Regions from separate parts of the Homo sapiens genome. Here all the other regions are linked to region 2. Evidence: fine-mapped expression QTL. A gene starts in region 2. Each other region holds a variant in brackets. All regions are shown on one strand. Distances are between the middles of the regions.

Region 1 (4,112 bases), 150 kb before region 2:
CCACCCCCCGCCTGCCCCAGGCGGGCACAAAGGGCGCTCGGGCCAGGAACCCATGAGCTGGGCTCTCCCGGGGCCGAGGGTCCAGACCTGTTGCCGAGAAGCTGCTTAGCAAGGCCTAGGGGCAAGGGCTGGTCTGGCCTAGCTCTTTCTCCCTTGAGCCCCCTGCCACAGGGCTAAGGCCATGCTGCGGGCTCGAGTGACTGCCCTGGACGTGACAAATCTCTGTGCCTCGGTGCCCACACCTATACAATGGGGGTAATAAAGTCCCCACATTGTAGCACTGCCAGGTGGATTAAATGAAAGAAGATAGTGAAGTCCTTAAAGTGAGATGTGTTGGCATTTACTCCACAAATACTGAATGCCTGCTCCAGGTGCCAGGGACAGCAGTGACAATACAAAACTGATACGAAATTCCAAAGGGATGTCCACCAATGGGAGACGTATAAGGGCTCTGCATCCATGGATTCAACCAACTGTGGATGGAAAATGTTTGGAAAGAAAGTTGCATCTGTGCTGAACATCTGAACTTGTACAGGCTTTTTGTCTTGTCGTTATTCCCTAAACAATAGAGTGGGTCACGCAGCATTTGTGTTGTTAGGTATCGTAAGTGGTCTGGAGATGGGAGGATGTATGTGGCCTCCATGTCAGTATCACACCATTTCGTATCGGGGGCTTGAGTACCTGTGGATTTGGGTACCTGCGGGAGGTCCCCATGGGTGCTGAGGGACAGCTGCACTTTAGTATTTATCTACAGAGTGCTTGGAAGGGAAAACAAAGACAGGCAGGGCTGGTTTGGGGAAGGGGCCTGTTGTGGATGGGGTCGTGGAGGACCTTACAGTGTCCCCAAAGCGAGGTGAATCTCATGGTGTCAGGGCTAAGAGCATTGTGGAGAGAGGGTACAGCCACAGCAAAGGCCCTGAAGTGGGGATGGGCCCACAGGCTGGCAGGACAGCAAGGAGACCCATGTGCTGGGACCCCGAGAGCTAGGACACGTGAAGCCCTGGCTGGCCCCGAGTGCGGTGTGGTTGGCGCAGATGGCAACAGGGTCACTCTGGCTGCAGAGCCAAGAATGGACCACTGAGGGGCTGGGACAGACCTGGCAGACCAGGAGGGAGGCCACTGCACTAGTCCAGGCGGAGGATGGCAGCTGGACCAGGAGGGCGAGGAGGAAGTAGTAGATTCAGGACTGTTTTGAGAGGGACCATTTTAGCTTCTTACGGCTGCTGTAATGAATTCCCACAAACTTAGTGGCTTTAAGTGACACGTTTATTATCTAACAGCTCTGGAGGTCAGATGTCCGACATGGGCTACATTCAAGGAGCCAGCAGAGCTGGTTCCCACTGGAAGCTCAAAGGGAGGCCCCACCTCCCTTGGCTTGTGGCCTTTCCCCACGGCCCCCTTGTCTCTGCTTCTGTCCTGCGCTCTTCACAACCTCCCTTCCTCCCTCTTTCTCTTATGGGGAGTGCAGGGGTGATCTGGAGGAGCCGGTCAATAGCAGCGTGGTGGGGTCTGGCAGAGACAGACTGCAGGGGGCCTGGGAGGCCCCAGGAGGCAGGTGGACTTTGTCCCTAGGCATCCAGTGCAGAGGTGAGACCTGTATGGCCACAGAGTCTCCCTATCCAGGCCCCATTACCCTGGGGGAGGCGGATTATGGTATGAACTGCTGCAGGTGGTCCAAGAGGGGCTGCCCCTGGGAGACGCAGGGTTCTTCAGTAATGGTGGTTTCGAAGGGCAGAGGAGGGAAGAATGGAGGGATGGGGGACAGACGCTGGAGCCGTTTTGGTGGCAGGCCTCTGTGGCTGTGGCCAGAAGCAGGGCTGGGCACCAGGCCAGATGGACCAGAGGCTGCCCCCAGCTGAACCAACTACAGAAATGAGAGCCCCGGCCCAGCCTCCTCCCAGCCGCCGCTCTCTGGGAGCCCAGCTTTGCTCATAGAAAAGGAAGGCCCTTGTTGCCCTGCATTGGGAGCAAACACTTCCTTTGGCCTCACAGCTCAACCTTGGACCCAAAGGTCCTCAGGGACCTGGGGGAAAGAGAGGGCAGCCAGGCACCTCTGTTCACGGCAGGGGCTGCGTTGCCCAGCCTGGCAGAGGGAGGCAGCCCCTAGGTACAGTCCCCTGTGCCCACTCGAGGGGGTGCTGAATTCCTCAAGGCCTGAGTCAGACCTGGTGCAGCTTCATAAAGCCAAGGGTGGCAGGCGGAATCCAAGGGGCCTCACCGCCCATGCACCCCACTGTTGCATGGAGAGAACAATGCCCAAATGCCCTCGTCCCACAGTCGGCATGCCAGACCCCTC[G/A]GGAATTCAGGCCTTGGTGAGTCTGGCACATTCCGGCTGTGTGTCAGCGGGAGAGGCCTGGGAAAGGGAGCCAGCACTGCAGGCCGCCCACCACACGCCCACTCGGGCACCGGACACAGGGAAGGCGGACACCCAGGGCGGCCATCTCTCGGGACAGGAGGTGCGGCTCCAGGTTCTCACCCAGGAGAGGGCTTTCCTCCCATGTCAGAGTCCCCTTCGCTGCTTGAGGCAAGCCCTCCGGAACAGACCCATCTTTTGGGGGACCCTGTGGTCATGGAGATCAGGTTCCTAGAATCACCCCCAGCAGCGCACACAGGAGGGCCTGAGGCCCAGAGAAAGGCGCCTGAAGCAAGGGAGGGGAGGGCTGGTCCAGAGTCCCTGTCCCCTCTGCCAGCCACCCAGGAGGCTCCTATGGCCCCATCTCCCAGCTCTTCCGGGTGGAAGACAGTGGTGGGTAACTCACTCAGCTAGAGCGTCTGATCACACCACTGCAGCGGCTGCTCACAGCCTTCACCATCAGGACCACAATTCTGAGGGCCCTTTGGATGAAGCCATCTCACAGAGCTGTCTCCTGCAGAGAGGAGAGGAGAGGGAGGCCGCCTTGCCAGCAGGGGACCAGCGAGGTGTGGCCTGCAAGCCGTGGGCTCCTGTGTTCCTTCCTCCCCCTTCAGAGGAATGGGAGGAAACCAGGCTTGAGTTCCTGATTTTTGCCCTTTAGGGTTTTTAAATTGTGGGAGAGCCAGGAGTGCCTGCGTGGTGGCCTCTGTCGACTCCATTTGCTCTGAAGCGGGGCTGCGGCCAGGCAGTGCCTCTCAGCCTTCTGTTTGGTGGGTGAGGACGATGCTTGGTCTTGCCTCAGGAGCATTGCTGGCACCTCTCATGTGCTCCTGGGCCTCTCCCCAACCCTCACCTTGGCATCCCCCAATATCCAAACAATAGTCCACAAAACAAGCTGCCCCGTGGGCACTGCGAAGACCCTCGGGGCCAGAGCCACTCCCTCAGGGTGCTGAGGCCACCAGCTGGGGCCTCCTCTTTCCACACTATTCCTGACGCCTGGGCTGGGCAGGGGACTCCTGGCTTCGTTTCTTCCCTCGCCTTTGCTGGGCCATCTTTCAGACCTTGCCTGGTACCTTCTCTCCCCGTGCCAAGGCCTGGAGGTGATGTGGATGCAGCCGGGCAGTGAGGAGCGCAGGCGAATGTTACAGCAGGCGCGAGCGAAGGGGCCCGAGGCACCGGTGCTTCCGACGGGGCCCGAGGGCCGTCTGACCTTTCCGGCCACGGGGCAGCAGTTGCGTGAGCAGGAACAATCGCCCCAGTGTGCAAGGCACAAGCGGCCTTTTCTTCCTCACCGGGCCGGCGCACACAGCTCCCAGCCTGGCTTCCCTTGAACAAACATATTTATTGTGGCCGCCACCGAGGCCTCGCCTTGCAGCCGGAGCCTGGGGGCCTCTGTCCCACCCACTGGGGCCCAGGGAGGGGACCCCTGCCCTGGCGGTCTCCCCTGCCCCATGGGCCCCAGCCCCATCTTGCCTGAGGCAGGGGTGGCTCTGGTCCCACCCACCCTCTGGAGGCCCAGAAACTCGAGGCTCCTGCTGGGGGCTGGTGACCACCCACAGGCAGCAAGCCAGCCAGGGTCCTGGGAAGAGGGGGTCTGGGACACAGCCACACCTGAGCCCATCCTCCACCTGGAGCCAGCCCCTTACCTTCTGGAGCCTCAGTTTCCCCCTCTGTAAAATAGGAGGCATCACCCAGCCTTGCACGTCTCCAGTGTCCCTCAGAACGGCTCTGGCCCCGCAGCTGGGGTCTGAAGAGCAGA
Region 2 (4,112 bases):
ATTAAACATTTTATATAAATGACTCTTAAAGCTTTACACCTTGGGACCAGTGTACCTTCTCGTGCAGAATACATTTAGATATAAAAAGACGTTATTAATACATTGCACAGTTTTCAAAATTTAAAAACAAAACCGAACGCTGCTCTGCGGCAGCCGCCGCCGGTTGCTGCTACATGAACGGTCCCAGCCGAGGCCCAGCGCCCTTCCAACGTCCGCTGCCCCGGCAGGTTCCCTCGGGGCTCTTTGGGCTCTAAACTGCGAGGAGAGGGGCGGTCAGCAAAGCCGGCGGGGACCCGGCGGGTCGGCCCTCCGCGCCCCCCCAGGTGCGCTGTACTCACTTGGCTCACCGCAGCCTCTTGCGCGGGGTCTGCTCCACCGAGCCCACGCCAGGGGCGGCGCTTGGAGAGGGACACGGCGCGGGGACATCGCCCGACGACTTCTCAGGCGCTGATCTCTTGCGCTTGGCGAAGAAATCTGCGGGCGACAGCGCGCGCGGCCGGTCAGGGCGGGGCCGGCCCGGAGACCCGAGAGGGGGCCGGGAGAGGGCGCGGGGCGCGGGCCGGCCGGGGTGGGGGCGCCGTCCCCGCCCGCGCCGAGGTCCGCGGCGGGTCAGCTTTGTTTACGTCGCCGCGCAATGTGCTGTGTAAGCATTTCCCCTTGTCCCGCGGCCAAGCCCCCCGGGGCCGCCGCCGCGCTTAACCCCCTCCACGCCGTGCTCACGGCGCCCGGCCGCGCCCGGGGAGGGGCTCCCGCGGCCGGGGGCGAAAACTGCGCTCCCGGGGGGTCGCGGCCGGGATTCAGCCTCCCACCCCGCCCGCGCGAAGCCGCTGGAGGGCACAACAACGGGGCGGGGAGGGGGGTAAGGGCGCAGCCGCGCCCTGAGCGCTGCGGGCCCTTTAATGCCACGGGAGGAGGCGGGAACCCAGCGAGGCCCCCGAGGGCTGGGGGGACCGGCCGGCCGGACAAAGCGGGGCCGGGCCGGGCCGGGGCGGGGCCGTGCGGGGCTCACCGGAGATCAGAGGCCCGGACAGCTTCTTGATCGCCGCGCCGTTGGCGCTGGCGGCCGCGGTGCCGGCCGCGGGACGTCCCGAAATCCCCGAGTGCAGCTGGTCAGCGAGAGGCTCCTGGCCGCGCTGCCCCTGGTTCGCGCCCTGCTCGGCGCTCTCTTGAGGCGCCGCGTCCGGGGCCGGGGCCGGGGCGGGGGCCGGGGCCGGGGCCGGGGCCGGGGCTGGGGCCGGGGCCGCGACTGGAGCCGGGGCCGGAGCCGGAGCCGGAGCCGGGGCCGGGGCCGGGGCCAGGACCGCGACCGCGACCGGAGCCGCGACCGGAGCCGCGACCGGAGCCGGAGCCGGGGCCGGGGCTGGAGCCAGGACCGGGACTGGGGGCGGGGTGGACGCCGGGGCCGGGACCGGGACACTAGGCAGCTGCTCCGGCGCCTCCTCGAGGCCGTCGAGGGACTCAGCGGCCGGCTCGAGGGGCGGGCTGACAGCCACCGCGACCGCGACGGGCCGCGGCGCCAGCAGCAGGCGGCAGCGCCCCACCTGCACCGTCTCGCGGTAGAACGCGGGCACCGAGTCGCTGTCCACTTCGGTCCACTGCAGGCGTCCAGGGCCCCGCAGCGGCATGTCCTGCTGGAAGTCGTAATCCCAGCGGTTCTGGTCCTCGGCGTTCAGCTCGGCCAGGCGGGCCTGCAGCTCGCGGCTCAGCTCCTCGTGGTCCACCGGCCCGAAGAGGCTGCGGCAGGCGCTGGTGCGCACTAGTACTGGGAAGGTCCCACGGGCGACAAGACGCTCCATCGTGGATGTGCTGCGGAGGGACGCGTCGGACATGGCCCGGGGCTGCGCAAACGCGGGCAGCGAGAGAGGAGAGGACAGCGAGAAGAAGGGGAAAGGAGAGGAGGAGAGGGCGGAGGCCGGGCGCAAGGGAGACCCCGCGCCGCCCGACTCTGCGTGTGCGAGGGACGCGGCGGCTACCTGGCTGTCCGGTGGTGGACTCTTCTGCGTCGGGTTCGCCTGTCTCGTCCGGACGGCAGCCGCGCCCCCTCGATGCCTGCTGGCTAGCTCGCTCGCTCAGGCCTGGCCGGCACCCCTCGAGCACAGCGCACTTGGCCTGTGGAACGCCCAGCCCGCCTGCGCCCCCTTTATACGCGCGGGCCCCACCCCCGTGCGCGCGGGCCCGGCCGCGATTAGCATAATGTAGTATTTTCAGTTTCAACAACACCACGGCGATTGGCGGCCGCCCCGCTGCCCCGCCCCGCCGCGGCCCGGCCCCCGCGCACCGCCCATTGGCCGCGCGCACACCCACCGGGGGCGGGGCGGGGCGCGCGGCCGGGGCGCGCGGCTGATTGGCGGCCGCGGGGCGAGCGCGCTGTAGCAGGGGAAGGGGGCGGTGAGCGGGGCGGGGGCGGGAGTTAAAGGGCGCTGCGGGCGGTAACGTGACACCGCGACGCCCGCCCCCTCGCCCCATCCCCCCTGCAACACTCCCCCACCCCCCCGGCTCCCGCCCCCCGCCGGCTCCTTTGTCTGCAGGCGGGGGCCTCAGCCCAGCGCGGCAGGGGCCGGCTCCTGGCGGGTCCGGTGTCCGGCCAGGCCCAACTCGACCCCGGCCCGGTCCGGACCCCGGCGCCCAGCTCCGTCCCGCGCTCGCCCGTGGGCCTCCTGCGCCAGCTGACGAGGCTTGGACCCGCCGCTGCCAGCTCGGCCCTGGCCTGCGCCGGATGGGGTCTTCGGCTGCCCCCGCGCGGCCTGCTGCTGCTGGGCTGGTGTCCCTTCGAGGGCTCCGCGCGCCTGGAGCCCTCACACACCTGCTGGCCCTAAGGCCCTCGAGTCGGGAGGGGGGACAGGGGTCAGCTCCACTCTTTCCCCGAGGGACCATGTGTGGGACACCTTGAGAGACTCCCACCAGCCCCCTGGAGCTGGAGTCTGAAGCCGCTATCTGCGGAGGCCCACCCTGCCCAGTAGATGGAACAGGGGCTGAGCCCATCATGTCACTGTCGGGGGTCCCAGCCCTTCTCAGCCTTGGGCCAGACCACTCCAGCCCCGGGATCTGCCTGTCCAGGCTGGCTGGAAGCTGTTGTACTGGGTAAAAGTGAAAGATCTGCCCGAGGTCATAGGGGAAGGGGCTGTGAAGGACCATGCCCCTCCCCCGCCTGCAGCCCTTCCTGGTACAGACCTCGGTCGTGCGCGCACGCACACACACACACACACACACACGCACGCACACACACGGTGCTTCACCCCAGCCAGGCCAGACCAAAAGAGACCATTATTTCCTGCTGCCTCCCTTTTGGCCCACCTACCATGAGGCAGGGAGCCCCCTCCTCAAACCAGGAGCCTCCCAGATCGGGATGGGGACTGTCAGACACCTGTTGGAGGGTCCAGCAGCCCATGAGATCTAAGCCCCTATCTCAGGTGAGCCTGTGAGCCAGCAGAGAGACCTCTGGGAGGGAGGGAAGGTGCGGTCCCCTGAACCCCAACCAGCCTGCCTTTGAGTCCCAAGACACCCCCACCCCCATGGAATGCTGTGGCAGTGTGCAGCTGCAGCTGGGGGAGCAGGGCGGGTCTTCTGGGTCTCAGGGAAGCGAGATCTGAAGTGAGGGGGGTGAACTGGATGGGACAGGGCGTTAACCCAGGAGAGGGGCCAGGGCCATTCTTGGCTCTTGATGGTGGAACCAAAAGCCATGATTTATGTGCAATTTCATATTCTTCTCTGTGCACAATTTACAAATTTCCCGCAACAAGCCCAGATGTCACAATTTTCATCTTAGGAAAACAAAGAGAAGCTGAAGAAGGCTCCCCAGGCCCTGCGAACCCCTCAAGCAGGGCTCATATCAACTGGCCTGGGGGCAGAAAGAGGCAAAGTCTAGTCTGCTCCATGCCCCTATGCTGCCACCTCCCCAGAGACTAGGAGCAAAGGGCTAGAGTGGGTAGTGACCTAGAGGCCCCCGGATACCCACACTCCAACCATCAGGACTCATTGGCCTTGGTGACACCACTCAGAGGGTGTAGCTGCCATCATCCTGTGTTATAGAAGAGCAGCAGAGACCGCGTCAGCCGCTGAGGCCGCACAGCTGGAAGGAAGCAGGGCTCAGAACTCCCGGGCTGCCTGGCTTT
Region 3 (4,112 bases), 330 kb before region 2:
TGCTCAGCAGCATTAAGTAAGGCAAAGCAATAATGGGTGGTTGAAAAATAAAGGAATGGCCAAAGAGAGGCCAAGAAACTGCAAGCTAAAAGAAGAAAAGGAGAGAAAAAACAGGGAGATCAGGATGAATATCAACACTGAAGCCCAAACAAGACAAGTGTGAATGAGATCAGGCACTATTAGAAGACCTGACTGTAATCTTTAAGGCATCATACAACATAAAATACATAAAGCAAAAACTATTGAAAATCTGCAAGGACAGGAAGGTTAAATATGATAACGGGAGGAGATTTTAATGTACCTCTTTTGGAATAGGACAGTTCTAGTGGGCACAAAATAAGTGAGGACATGGACAGGTAAATGTTGTAATCATGAGCAATTTCAGATTCTAACAGTAATTTGAAATAACTCCTGTTCTTGTTATCTATAGCCATGTAACAAACCATCCACAAATCTAGCACCTTCAAAATACGCATCACGCCTGAGCTCGCTAGCCTACAGTCTGGCAGGGCTCAGTGGGACGGCTCATCTCCCCTCTGCATAGTATCAGCTGGGGCTGGAGCCTCCACAGCATTGCATCTACATGGCTGGTAAGGCTCCTGTTCATGAGGGCTTCTCCAAGGCTGCATGGATTCCTCACATCTCAGAAATGAACAGTCCAGGAGACAGGCAGTGCCAGGGACTGAGAGCCACCTGGCTGTATTCTCCTGATGCAGGTGTCACAGAGCCCAGGTTCAGTTGGGGAGGACTGGCAAAGAACTTCATAGGACTGTGCTTTAAAACCAGCACTATCACTTCGAACCCTAGTAATGGAGTTGTTTTGTTCCCTTATGTCTGCGGAACACTTACAAAACCAATCATTCATGTGGCTACAAACAAATCTAACCTACCTCAAAAAATTGAGATTTAACTGGCCATGTTCTCTGATCAAAACCCAATATCATGAGAAATAAATGATTAAAAGATTGGGGAAGAAAAATCCCTTACCTATTTGGGAATTAAACAACACTCTCCTAAATAGCCAGAAAGAAGAGATTGATGTGGGAAGTGCGGGCCCTGTAGGGCGTTATGAGACGTAGGCCCCGCTGCCTGCCCCAGCCCCTACATCACTCCAGCTGCCCCCCAGCACCAACTGTAGATGCTTTTATTTTGTAAATTCCATGCCAGTGCCCACATCGCTTGCTGGTGGCTTCACTGTGTTTGCAAATGTTGTCCCCCACGTGGATTGAAATTCATCTATTGCCTGAAAGTAATGAAGTATGTGCCTTGCACACTGTGTAAGCATACGTGTTTATTCAGTGCGTCCTGGGTTCTCACCCCTTGCCAGGTGATGGGTTGATTCAGTGTGCTGGGGGTCTCCAGGCGGGGGGGTCCACATAGTTTTTGCTTCATCAGAATCTGCTGATAAGCCCAGTTCGGAGCAGAGACTAGATGGGCCAGCCTGTGGGCACTCTGCCTAGCGCCATCTGCCTCTCCCACCCCAGGCAGGTGTCAGGTGGCTGCTGCGCCCTGTGTCCGCCTCCTGACCTTGAGAACACCCAGGTGGGGGAGGAAGTGGGCCGCGCTTCGGGAACCCCCACCCCGCCGGCTTGCGCAGCGAGCTGGGTCCCAGGGCTGGAGGCACCTCATTAAACCGCCTGAAACGTGTGTAACTCTAGTCGGCCCCCGTAAGGCACCGGCAGTACATGTGAAATTAAAATTACTGAGAGGCCCCACTCTCCTCCCCTCCATGGGTGGGCAGCCTTCATGGGGAGGCCAAGGCCCGGAAGCCGGCAGTCCTGGGAAAGATTTGGCCCCAATGATAATGGGCCCAAGAATGTGCTAGGCCCAGGGTGTGGTCCAAGTTCCTTTCTTAGCTAAC[C/T]CCTCCACCCTGAGAAGCCTCCCCCACTACACCCACACATGGGGCCAGCTGCCTTGAGCACCTCCTGCTCAGACCCAGGTGAGGTACCTGAGTGACAAATGTCAAGAGTTTGCAGTTACTCCCAGAGCTACGGACAAGGGGCAAGGTGGGGCTGGAGGCACCGGCTCAGCAAGAGGGGTCACTTGAGCCTTGGCCTGCAGGGAGGTTTTGCTCAAGGAGTGTCCCTTGAGCAAAATATTGCACTTTCGTTGCTCTCTGAAAGCCTACCAGGCAGTCTTCCCAGAGGTGCTTCCCGGGAAGCCCGTGGAGAGGATGCATTCGACACCCAAGGCCTTATGGAATCAGTCCTGGGGCCTGGAGGGTCGTAGAGAAATGTGTGAACATGGCTCCCCTTAGGCCAGGGGTAGACGCAGGCACAGGGAGGATCAGGAAAGCCCTGGATCTTGTTGACACCCCGGGATGTGCCCTTGTGGCTACTTAGACGTAGAGCCCGGGGCAGGGGGAGGGCCAGCCCCTGTGGTTTTAGCCTCCTGAGAGTCTCCCCAGACAGCCCACAGGGGACACTGGGCCTCATGCCGCCTGTCAGGATGGTGTCCGGGATGTGGGGACCAGACGACAGCTGTCACCCACTTGCAGGGCCCGGCTGCCCGGTGGATGGGAACGGCCATCCCCATGACGACCCAGCAAGTCCCTTGCCTCTCTCGCTCACCAGGAAGAAGACACGTCCGGGCAGCTGGCAGGTGGGGCTAGTTCTGGAGGGAAAGCGGCCTCGTGCCTCCCAGAGTCACCCCGAAATCATTAACGGGGAGACAAGCACACAGAGCAGCTGGCCGATTGCAGCTCTGAAGGTCAGAGATGGCCGCCAGCTGTGGGAAGGCCTGTGGCTAGGGCTCTGCTGCCTGCTTCCTGGGCAGGGGCTCCTTCCTCCCTCTCTGTCTCTGGGGTCCCATGGGAAGTCAGGGTGGGGCCTGGTGTGTGGCTTCCGCTGGTTTCCTGGGTGTGTCTTCCTGCAGGGCCAGGACCCCCAGAGTGTTCCAGTGACTTCAGAGAGGGGCAGCCAGACCAGGAGGAGCTCCAGAGGTGCCCTGTGGGGAGAGGCAGCGTCCCAAACACGGGGGAGGGGGTACCGCCAGCCTGGGGACAGATAGCAGCATCTCAGCCATGGGGGGCCGTGACATCCGGTCAGGAGGGGGTTAGCATCTCAGACATGGGGGGGAGATGTCCAGCCCAGGGGAATGAGGGGGGTGATGTCCATCCTGGGGAGGGGTGACATCCATCCTGGGGGGACGGAGGCGTGACGTCCATCCTTGGGGGATGGGGGGGTGACGTCCATCCTGGGGGAGTGGGGGCGGTGACGTCCATCCTGGGGGAGTGGGGGCGGTGACGTCCATCCTGAGGGAACAGGGGGGTGACGTCCATCCTGGGGGAATGGGGGGGGTGACATCCATCTTGGGGGTACTGGGGGGTGGCGTCCATCCTGGGACTGGGGGGTGACGTCCATCCTGGGGGGACGGTGGGGGATGTCCATCCTGGGGGGACGGGGGGTGACGTCCATCCTGGGGGCGGGTGATGTTCATCCTTGGGGGACGGGGGAAGGTGATGTTCCTTCTGGGGGGGCGGGGGGGGGTGACGTCCATCCTGGGGGAGACAGTAACATCCCAAACATGGGGGATGATGTCCAGAGTGGGGGTCTTCAGGTCTTTACGGGCCCCTCAGCCTCCCCTTCCACACCCCAAGTACAGCACCCACAAGGCAGGTGCCTGGGAGGGAGACACACCTGTCCCCTGCCTGAAGTTTCTCAGCAGGATTTTGGGCACAAGGTGGGTAGTGAGCTGGTCTCAGCACTGAGCTTGCAGGTGGAGAAGGCGGGCCCCTGACTTTAGGGCGCTCTGGGTGGGATGAGGACAGACGTGGAGGAAAGGAGGGATCCCAGCAGAGGCAGCAGTGGATGGGGGAGGGCTTCACTGCAGGGAGAGTGAGGCTGCGCGGTGCCCTGCAGGACAGATAGGAACTCCCAGGCCTGTAATCCCAGCACTTTGGGAGGCCGAGGCGGGCGGATCACGAGGTCAGGAGATCGAGACCATCCTGGCTAACACGGTGAAACCCCGTCTCTACTAAAAATACAAAAAATTAGCCGGGCGAGGTGGCGGGCGCCTGTAGTCCCAGCTACTCGGGAGGCTGAGGCAGTAGAATGGTGTGAACCCCAGGGGGTGGAGCCTGCAGTGAGCCGAGATTGCGCCACTGCACTCCA
Region 4 (4,100 bases), 48 kb before region 2:
GGTACAGCAAGGGCAGAAGCCCCACCTCCAAGGAGCTGACCCCCTGCCGTGGCAGAGACAGAAAACAAAGGCAGCACCACAGCGACGAGGGCCTGAGAGGAAAGTGGAGCAGGAGCCTGCAGCATGCTGGGGCAGGGGTGTCTTTAGAAAGGGTACTGGGAGGGCCCTGGCAAGGGACTTAAGTAATTACTTAAAGGAGGGAAAGGGTGGCCTGGGGCTCACAGAGGAAAAGCCTTCCTCATGGAGGCGGCGGGGCAGCGGGCTCAGCCTGCAGTGTCCAGGAGCGACGGGAAGCCTCGTGGGGCTGTTGGGAGACAGCAAGACCTGGGTCAGCAGAGCACCGTGTGGGGTAAGCAGATGACAGGGCAGTGACAGGGTGATCGGGCCCGGTCAGTGGTCCCAGGGGTCGGGGACAGGTGGGAATCGAAGTCATAGGAGGCGGGGCAAAGGCCACGGGGAAAGGGACAGAGCTGCTCCCAAGGACGCACCACCATGGGGTGCCCCGTGGCGTGGCGGGGGTGGGGGTCAGGACCTTTAGCAGAAGGTAAAGATGAGACCAAGAGGCAGATGGGTGGAAGAGTTGAAAGCAGCCAAGTGTCACCAAGGCATTTCTGAGGGAGAGGGACACGACTAGTGGCTCAAATCTTTAGAAATGAGGGGATGGGTCTGGTAGAGCACCCCAGATTCAAGGCGGGTGGCTTGGGGAAAGCAGGGAGAAGGGTCTGGAAACTGCTGCTGAGCAGGAGCCCCCACACCCACAGAGCAGGTGCAGGGAGGCCCATCTGTCCATCCGTCTGTCTGTGGGGAGGCATGGTGACGTTTCAGGCCGGAGGTAGAAGTTTTCACCCAGGAGGTAGAGGGTGAGGCCGGACTGCACTCCAAGGGGAGGAGGTGGGAGAGCACAGCCTGGCTGCTGCCACCAAGCTCCCCAGAAGAGGGGACCCCTCCCCCCGAACACCAGCACATGTAGGCAGAAAGACTTGGCCTGTGGAGCCCTCAGCCTCCACGCCCACCAGCAGGGACTGGGTGGTGATGTCAGCAATCCCCACAGAAAGGAGGGCTGCACAGCCGTCCCAGGAGCCAGCACTGTCCCCGTGATTCTACGTGCAGCCTCCACAAGTGTGTCGCATGGAAACAAGCAGTGGAGAGCCACATGTGTGTCACATCACGCCTCGCCTCACTCGTGCTAAACCTCGCTGACCAGGCAGAACCAGGCACGAGCTGCGTATCAAAGTTGCTGGAAGGAGAAACATCAGATCCCTAAGCTGGTTACCTGGCAGGCAGGGGCCCTAGAGGGAAATGGGGCAGGTGAAATGGAGATGTGTCTTTGAAATGTCTTTATTTGGCGGGAGAACGTCTTCATAGGGTACTTATACCATGAAAAACCCTGTACACAGACTAATTTTGAAGCAAACATGTGAGGCGTTCACAGAAAGGGTTCAGGAAGACAAGCACCCCAGCCGCAGAGAGCCCGTGGGCTGGGGGCACGGGGCATGGCAGCCCTCTCCTGGGGATGGGCAGGATGGGGCACGTAGGGCGGAGGAAGAGGCTCACATGGTGTGCGTGTTTGGGAGCACCCTGGGCAGCCTCTCGAGTGTCCAGAGAGAGGACACCGTCTTGAGCCAGCAGGGACAGCCAAGAGCGCCCGGGGAGAGGCCTGGGTGGAGACAGAACACAGCAGGCTGTGGGCGTGGCCAATGTTGAGGGACGGAGGTGGCCAGAGGCCTCTCAGTGGTGCCCAGGGAGCTGGGGACGAGGGGCCTCATCCTTCCCCTGAGCCCCTCCCTTCAGGCCCAGGGAGTGGCCTGGGGCCCAGGAGAGCCCGCTCCGCGCTCACAGCCTC[C/T]GTTCCCAGACACGCCCGGGCCTGAGCCCCCAGGCTGCACTGTGCCACAGAACAGACTCCCCGGCCCCTCCCTGCTCGAGAGGTGACCAAGGCCCAGGGTCTCCCAGCGAGCAAGAGGCCATTGAACTGTTGTTGGCTGTGCAGTGCCCTGCCCTCGGGGAGGCGGCCTCTAAGAAGCACACACCACCAGCAGGAACCGGGCAGACAGAGGTGGGGGATGGAAAGCAGGGGAAGTGGCCACAGCCAAACCAGGAGGGGGAAGGGAGGGGGCCTCACCAAGGAGACCCTCACCTGGGGCCTGGAGAATGAGAAGGGTCTGGAGGCTAAGGAGAGGGGTGGATGCTCCAGGAGGCAGGGCCAGCCCATGTGAGGGTCCTGAGGTAGGAACCAGAGGAAACCGGCTCTGGGGCGAGAAGGGCGGCGCCCAGGGGGCCACAGGGGCCGGCGGCGAGGGACCCTCAGCCGAGGCTGGTATCTCGAGAACAGCAGGGATGCCTCAAAGGTTCTCGCCCAGCAAGTGGACATTGTGGTGTGGGAGATCAGCAGGTGCCGGTGCTTTCTCTGTCTGCAGGAAGGAGAGGGGGTCATGGGCCCCAGAGGCCTCTGTCTTAGAGAAAAATGGTGGCAACGTGGGACAGACTGAGGAAGCCAGCCCAGAAACGTCCCGTCCCAAATTCAGGAATATTTAGGGTATACCTGCTGCACGCCAAGGGCAGTTTCAGGAAGGGGACCTACTTCTGAGAAGCAAACACCACCAGTAGGGACCAGGCAGACAGAGGTGGGGATGGAAGGAAGCCAGACTGACCTCACGTGGCTCACAGCCACTGGCAGGGTCGGGGGACAGGTGCCAAACTATCCACATGCCCGTCAGGCACCTGGAGGAGTGTGAAACGGCATGCAGAAAGAAGGAAGCAGGCTTGGGGCTGGGGGCCAGGGACCGGCGCGCCGGGAAGCAGGCTGCAGAGTGAGGCCAGGGATGGGGGCTGGGCCAGACCACAGGGTTGTGAGCGGACTCTGGCATTGATCCGGAGCCACTGAGGGTTAGAGCCTATGACTGACAGGGGTCTGACTTCCAGTGGTATGGGGCCACCCTGCTGGGCTGGGGAAGGGAGGCGAGAGGAAGTATCTAAGGTCTGCTTGTGGACTTCCGGGGACAGCGAGGGGTATTGCTGGGGTCCTAGGGGCTGGTGCGCTCAGAGGTTCCAGATGGCCCAGCAAGTGGCTGAGGGCCCAGGGTAGGGGAGGATGTGGGGGCAGCAGGGCCGATGTGGGCAGACCTGGAGCAATGACACGAGAACGGCCAGGCAGCCCTGGCTTCCCCTGCCCACCTGCCCCCGTGGCCGGGCTGGGGTTTGGCTGAGGCAGCAGAGCGCTCGCTGGCTGCCCGAACAAAGTGTTCTGCCTGGTGTCCCCTGGCCTCCGGGCCTCTGCGGGCTCGCCAGAGGGGGCAGCTCAGGAGGCAGCGGCAGAGAATCAAATGCAGGTGGGGCCTGTGCCCACCGCCAGCACAAACACGGCTCCTGGGCCCCCAGCCTGCCCGACGTTCCTGCCCGCCTGGCCCCCAAACAGAGGCCGATGGGACGAGCCCTGCCCGGGGTTGCACTAGGTGGGCAGGTGGGCAGGTGGGCAGGTGGGCAGCTGCCTCGGGCTCTTGGACAGAGCCGCCCCTGCCTGGCGTCTGCCGGCAGGAAGCTCCTGAGGCCGGGCTAGGGATAGGCCAGCCCTTGGGGGAGGCTCGAGACCCCATCCCAGCCTGGGGCTTCCCCACCCCCTCCCACCTGCCTGGCAGTGAGGCAGCTCCCTGGCCTCTGGGTGCACCTGGGCCTCCTGCCCAGGCCCCTTCCAAGGGAAGAGGGCAAAGGGGCTCCAGTGCCACCCAGGGAGTGTTGTGCCACGTGGGCCCCCCTGGCTCTGCCACTGACTCCCTCCATGACCTCTGTCCCCACCCTGAAGTTGACATGAATGTCCGCACGGAGCAGCCTCTGCAGGTCTGTGAGGCTGTGGATGTGACAGCTCTGGCTCTGGCACAAACGTCAGCCCCAACCCAGATGCAGGGAGGGAGGTGGCTGCGTGTCCAGGAGCACGGGGCCATGTGGCACCGGCTCATGTCAGCAGACACGGCACACATAGACCCCCTGGGGGCTATGACGAGGTGAGGGCTGAGCCGAGGGAGAATCCAGGAAGGCGTGCGGGCCGAGAGGAAGAGGAAGGGAGGCTCTGGTGGCTGGAGCCAGCTGGGGGAGGGAAGGCAGCAGGG
Region 5 (4,112 bases), 73 kb before region 2:
TCATGGAGGCCACCATCTCTGTTCTCTCTTTCTGAAATTCCTTTTAAGTCAGACTGAAGACATTTTTAATGACACTTTGATGTCTCAACTTTCTTCCCCTTTTTTATGGCATTATATTCTTAACTTTATCTCTTCAGAGTTCTAGGAAATGTTTTTAGCAGTCCTGTTTTTAATATCCCAGAGCACACGCTTGCTCTCTGACCGTGGTCATGGCATTCCGCCCTCATTTGATGGGCACGACAGCTCCTAGGATCTTTCTGGAGACTCCAGATACATCTTATATCTTAAGTTCTGCTTAATTCCTTGATCTTCTGTTTATGTTTGGCCAGCCAGGCCCCTCTCTCTCATGTTCTGAATGTTTTTCAATGTTTGCTCGGGATCTGTGCATGGATGGGCCTGCTGGCATTTAGGATGTGTTGACAATGACTGGGGGAGGTGCCTGTCATTACACTGAGGAACCCCATATGTTAGAGCTCTGAGGCTGCTGCATCTGAGAGCTTGGGCTCGAGGTACAGGGCTGGCAGCCGGGAGTCCCACCTGTAGGACGCTCTGCTGTGGCAGAGGGACAGGACATGGACCTCATGCTCAGCCCCTTCCCATCGTCTTGGTGCTGTGGGCCTGATGTGTGCCTCCACAAGGACTCCCGCCTTCCCAGCATGGCATTCAGAGCAGCAGATGGCTTAGACTCACCCCCGCCCAGTCTTGGCACCCTTACAGCCCCGGCGAGACCCGGGTGGGCGTGGACCCTAGCGTCCCTTCACCCTCAGGCTGTGCACCTCCGCAGTGCCGTGTCCTGTCTGGAGCCTGTCACACCCCTGTACAGCTACCCCAATCCAAATGGAGCCTCCCCCAGGAAGCCCCTGGTGGGAATCCGTCCCCACGACCCCTGTCCGGCTTCCCTGGCTCATTGTCCCTGTTACAACCCAGATTTCCCTTATCGCAACTGGTCCTAGCCTGTGACCTCCTGGGGTGGGGAATCATCTCTGCAAACACAGCTCCTCCACCCTTATCAGTGCTTTGTGAAGGCAGCAGAACGTTCTCCTGAGCCAGTGTCTGGGTCACTTGAGCAATGGCTGCCAAGTCCATGGGCCTGCACGCATGAGGCTGTGCCTGTGTCTGTGCCGCTGGAGACCTTCTTGAGGTTCACTGCCCTAAAGGCCGCATGAGGGGACAGAAGGTGAACACAGGGCCCTGCTTGGTCTGACAAGCCCAGGCGGGGCCCTTGCCGAGCGTCAGGGTGGCTGGCAGCCACCTTCTGTGATCGTCCTCCTTCTGGGCTGCGGTCTAGGGCTGCACATTCAGGATGGGGATGTCCCAGTGGGCGCGCAGCACAAGGGTCAGCAGACCCCTGGCTGGAGGAGGTCAGTGTGGGGGGCTGCGTGGGAGACGGTGCAGCAGTGGGCCTGGGAGCTGAGCAACGGTGGCTGGGATGGGTGGAGACCACCAAAGAGGAGGGGCCGGCGAAAGCCAGGCTTCCTGCAGGCTCAAGCCTGGAAAACGGTGCTCAGTGAGCAACACATTCCCGTTCTACAGTTTCCTGAGCTCCCGAGTGCCCGCCGCAGGATGACAGTGGGACAGTCCTCACAGGGGCATGCTCAGGCCCTGCCCCAGGCAGACCCCACGCCCTGGCACGCAGCCCCACCGGCTGTGCCGCCTCTCGTTCCTGTCCTCCTGGCACCGCCGGCCACCCCTCAGCCCAGCCCTCATGGTTCTCTAAGCCGCCGCCTCCTCAGGAAGCCTCCCAGGCACCCATGCTCCCTGCACTGACCCCCAGACCCCAGCTTTGGCCATGCACTCCCAGACGGCTGGTCCCCACACAAACTTTCTGTTTCAAGGAACAGAAACACCCCTGAAACTTGTCTAAGAAGGAAATGTGTCAACTCACATACATGAAAAGCCTGAGTCCCTCCTCAAAGTCCTCCCCTCCCTCCTTCTCTCTCCTTCCTTCTTTCCCCCTTCCCTCCTTCCCTCCCTCTCTGCTTCCTTCTCTCCTTCCTCCCTGAGACCTGGGACGCCGAGGAGGGTTCCGTTCCCTCCCCCACCCTGGCAGTGCTCGGGGGCTCCAGTTGAAAATGATGGGGGACACATTTGCATCACAGCCTGCCCGGCCGGCTCTGTGGCCCCTGATCTTCCTACTGCAGCCTCTGCCGGGGCCGGAAGGGCATTTCCGGGAGGCGGGAACAGCATGTATGAAGGCAGAGCTCCTTCCCGGAGAGGAGGGCCAGCCCCGTCCCCAGGGGCTCCCGGCTTTCTCTCTCCCCCTACATTCCTGTCTCCATGCAGCAGCCAGAGGGACTTTAAAACATAAACCAGACCACAGCACTGCCTGCTCAAGCCCCCCATGGCCTCCCTCTTCCCTAGGAAGCAATCCAGGCACCCTTCCATGGCCGTGGGCCCCACGCCCCCGAGGCCCCACGCCCCCGGGGCCCCATGCCTGCCCTTGCAACATCCCCTTCCTGACTCCACCCAGCCTCCTGGGGGCTTC[C/T]GCCTCAAGGCCTCTGTGCCTGTGTGAGTGGCACCCTGGGGTTGTGCCATGGCCAGCCCTCAAACCATCTGAAGTCTGCTGTTGGCACCTGCCCTCTCCTGGCTGCAAAGCTGCCCCCTCATGGCCTCAGGTCTCTGCCCCAGCCTCCAATCCCTCATTACTGCCCCAGCCTGTGCCTGTGCCTGGAGGCTGTGGCCTGGCTCTCCAGCTGGAACAGAAGCTCTGAGAAGACAGAGCTGGCCAGCACCATCTCTCCTGTGAGAACCCTGTGCCTAGAACGGAGCCTGGTACAGAGGAAGAACCCGACAGACTGTGAGCCCTGTCTTCCTCTTGGCACCATGAGTCACCTGTCAAACTGAGGGGCTGGCAGAGCTGGAGGGAGTTCCATCCCAGCCCCAAGGTGCCTGGAGTAGCTTATGGAGGTCACTGATGGCCTCAGGATGCCAGCAGGCCCTCTGATGCCCAGGGCTCATTCAAGGGCATCTGCCCTGTGTCCTCATGCACCTCCATTCAGGGAACCTGGGCTCCCCACTCTCACAGGGGTGGAGACCTGCACCTCTTTTTCACCCCCAAACCCGCCTGCCCGTCAGTGCTTAGAGCAAATGCCCCTCCCCCGCCATCTTTTCATGACTCTCCCCCTTCCTCAACCCTGCGCCTGGTCACCAAGTCCTGACAACACCTCCAGCCCCTGTCTCTATGGTCCCCTCCTTGATCTGGAGCCATTCAGCCACATGGAGTATGTCCTCTGTCGAGGGGGCAGGGACTCAAAGGATGAGAGAAGGAACAGAGGGGAGGACCAACATCTCGGCTGATCCTGGTCTATTTTTAGTCGGTGGTGGGCTGTCACTCCGGAGGCCAGTGACTGCGTCATCAGTGCCTTTTGATCTTGTTGCCGCAAGATACACAGGAGGCAGCTGCTCACTGCTTGTGGAAAGAATGAGGGCGGGCACATAGGCCTGGGGTGTGGGGAGCATTAATGAGTGTGAGTGAGTGGCGGATGAGTAGGTAGATGGACGGGGAGCTGCAGGGAGGGAGGGTTGCAGAAAGGGATGCGTGGAAGGATGGTTGATGGATGGATGGTTAGATGGATGAAGAGATAGATGAATGGATAAAGAGGTGAAAGGATGAATAGAGAGATGGAGGGAAGGAGGGCTGAATAAAGAAATGGATGGATGGATGGATGATGGATGGATGGGTGTGTGGGTATGTGGATGGAGAGATGGATGAATGGTTAAAGAGGTGGATGGATGAATGGAGAGATGGAGGGAAGGAGGGATGAATAAAGGGATGGGTGGATAATGGATGGATGAATGGGTAGGTGGGTGAATGGATGGATAGATGGTTGAGTGGGGGGGTAGATGGAGAGATGCATGAATGGATAGAGGTGGATGGATAAATGCAGAGATAGAGGGAAGGAGGGCTGAATAAAGGATGGATGGATGGTGGGATGGATGGATGGATGGATGGATAGATGGATGGATGGATCGATGGGTGTGTGGGTGGGTGGAGAGATGGATGAATGGATAAAGAGGTGGATAGATAAATGGAGGGAAGGAGAGCTGAATAAAAGGATGGTGGGTGGGTGGATGGATGGATGGGGAAATGAAGAGATGGGTGGGTGGATGGA

Alleles and levels. Alleles are on the strand shown, and positions count from the first base shown. SD is a standard deviation of normalised expression in the study named. Not every link is listed here.
For the expression in tibial nerve of the gene that starts at base 2,115 in region 2, allele G in region 1 goes with a lower level than allele A (small effect, 0.34 SD a copy in GTEx).

What was found. PIP is the estimated chance that this variant, and not a neighbour inherited with it, causes the effect.
Region 1: its variant is fine-mapped to the expression of CDKN1C in tibial nerve (GTEx, PIP above 0.99).
Region 3: its variant is fine-mapped to the expression of CDKN1C in whole blood (TOPMed, PIP above 0.99).
Region 4: its variant is fine-mapped to the expression of CDKN1C in whole blood (TOPMed, PIP above 0.99). The same link has a PIP of 0.9 or more in blood mononuclear cells.
Region 5: its variant is fine-mapped to the expression of CDKN1C in whole blood (TOPMed, PIP above 0.99).

The regions. Positions count from the first base shown.
Region 1 is chr11:2,729,067-2,733,178 of GRCh38, forward strand. The region is part of intron 11 of KCNQ1 (potassium voltage-gated channel subfamily Q member 1); the gene reads left to right. Among named protein-coding and RNA genes, the nearest start is that of KCNQ1OT1, 31 kb to the left of the region's middle. RefSeq lists an enhancer at 2,682-2,851. The variant G/A (reference allele first, on the strand shown) is at 2,297.
Region 2 is chr11:2,883,661-2,887,772 of GRCh38, forward strand. It overlaps CDKN1C (cyclin dependent kinase inhibitor 1C), which reads right to left and starts at 2,115. Exons shown (of 4, transcript NM_001122630.2): 1 at 1,974-2,115; 2 at 1,010-1,806; 3 at 339-474; 4 at 1-255. The coding sequence starts at 1,796. The coding sequence ends at 344. It overlaps SLC67A1-AS (SLC67A1 antisense RNA), which reads right to left. Exons shown (of 3, transcript NR_169305.1): 3 at 3,684-4,112. RefSeq lists enhancers at 1,105-1,940, 1,941-2,776, 2,777-3,612.
Region 3 is chr11:2,557,062-2,561,173 of GRCh38, forward strand. All of the region lies in intron 2 of KCNQ1 (potassium voltage-gated channel subfamily Q member 1), which reads left to right. Among named protein-coding and RNA genes, the nearest start is that of KCNQ1, 110 kb to the left of the region's middle. RefSeq lists an enhancer at 3,810-4,112. The variant C/T (reference allele first, on the strand shown) is at 1,862.
Region 4 is chr11:2,835,563-2,839,662 of GRCh38, forward strand. All of the region lies in intron 15 of KCNQ1 (potassium voltage-gated channel subfamily Q member 1), which reads left to right. Among named protein-coding and RNA genes, the nearest start is that of KCNQ1-AS1, 24 kb to the right of the region's middle. RefSeq lists enhancers at 1-274, 275-1,141. The variant C/T (reference allele first, on the strand shown) is at 1,844.
Region 5 is chr11:2,810,351-2,814,462 of GRCh38, forward strand. The region is part of intron 15 of KCNQ1 (potassium voltage-gated channel subfamily Q member 1); the gene reads left to right. Among named protein-coding and RNA genes, the nearest start is that of KCNQ1-AS1, 49 kb to the right of the region's middle. RefSeq lists enhancers at 921-1,683, 1,684-2,447. The variant C/T (reference allele first, on the strand shown) is at 2,486.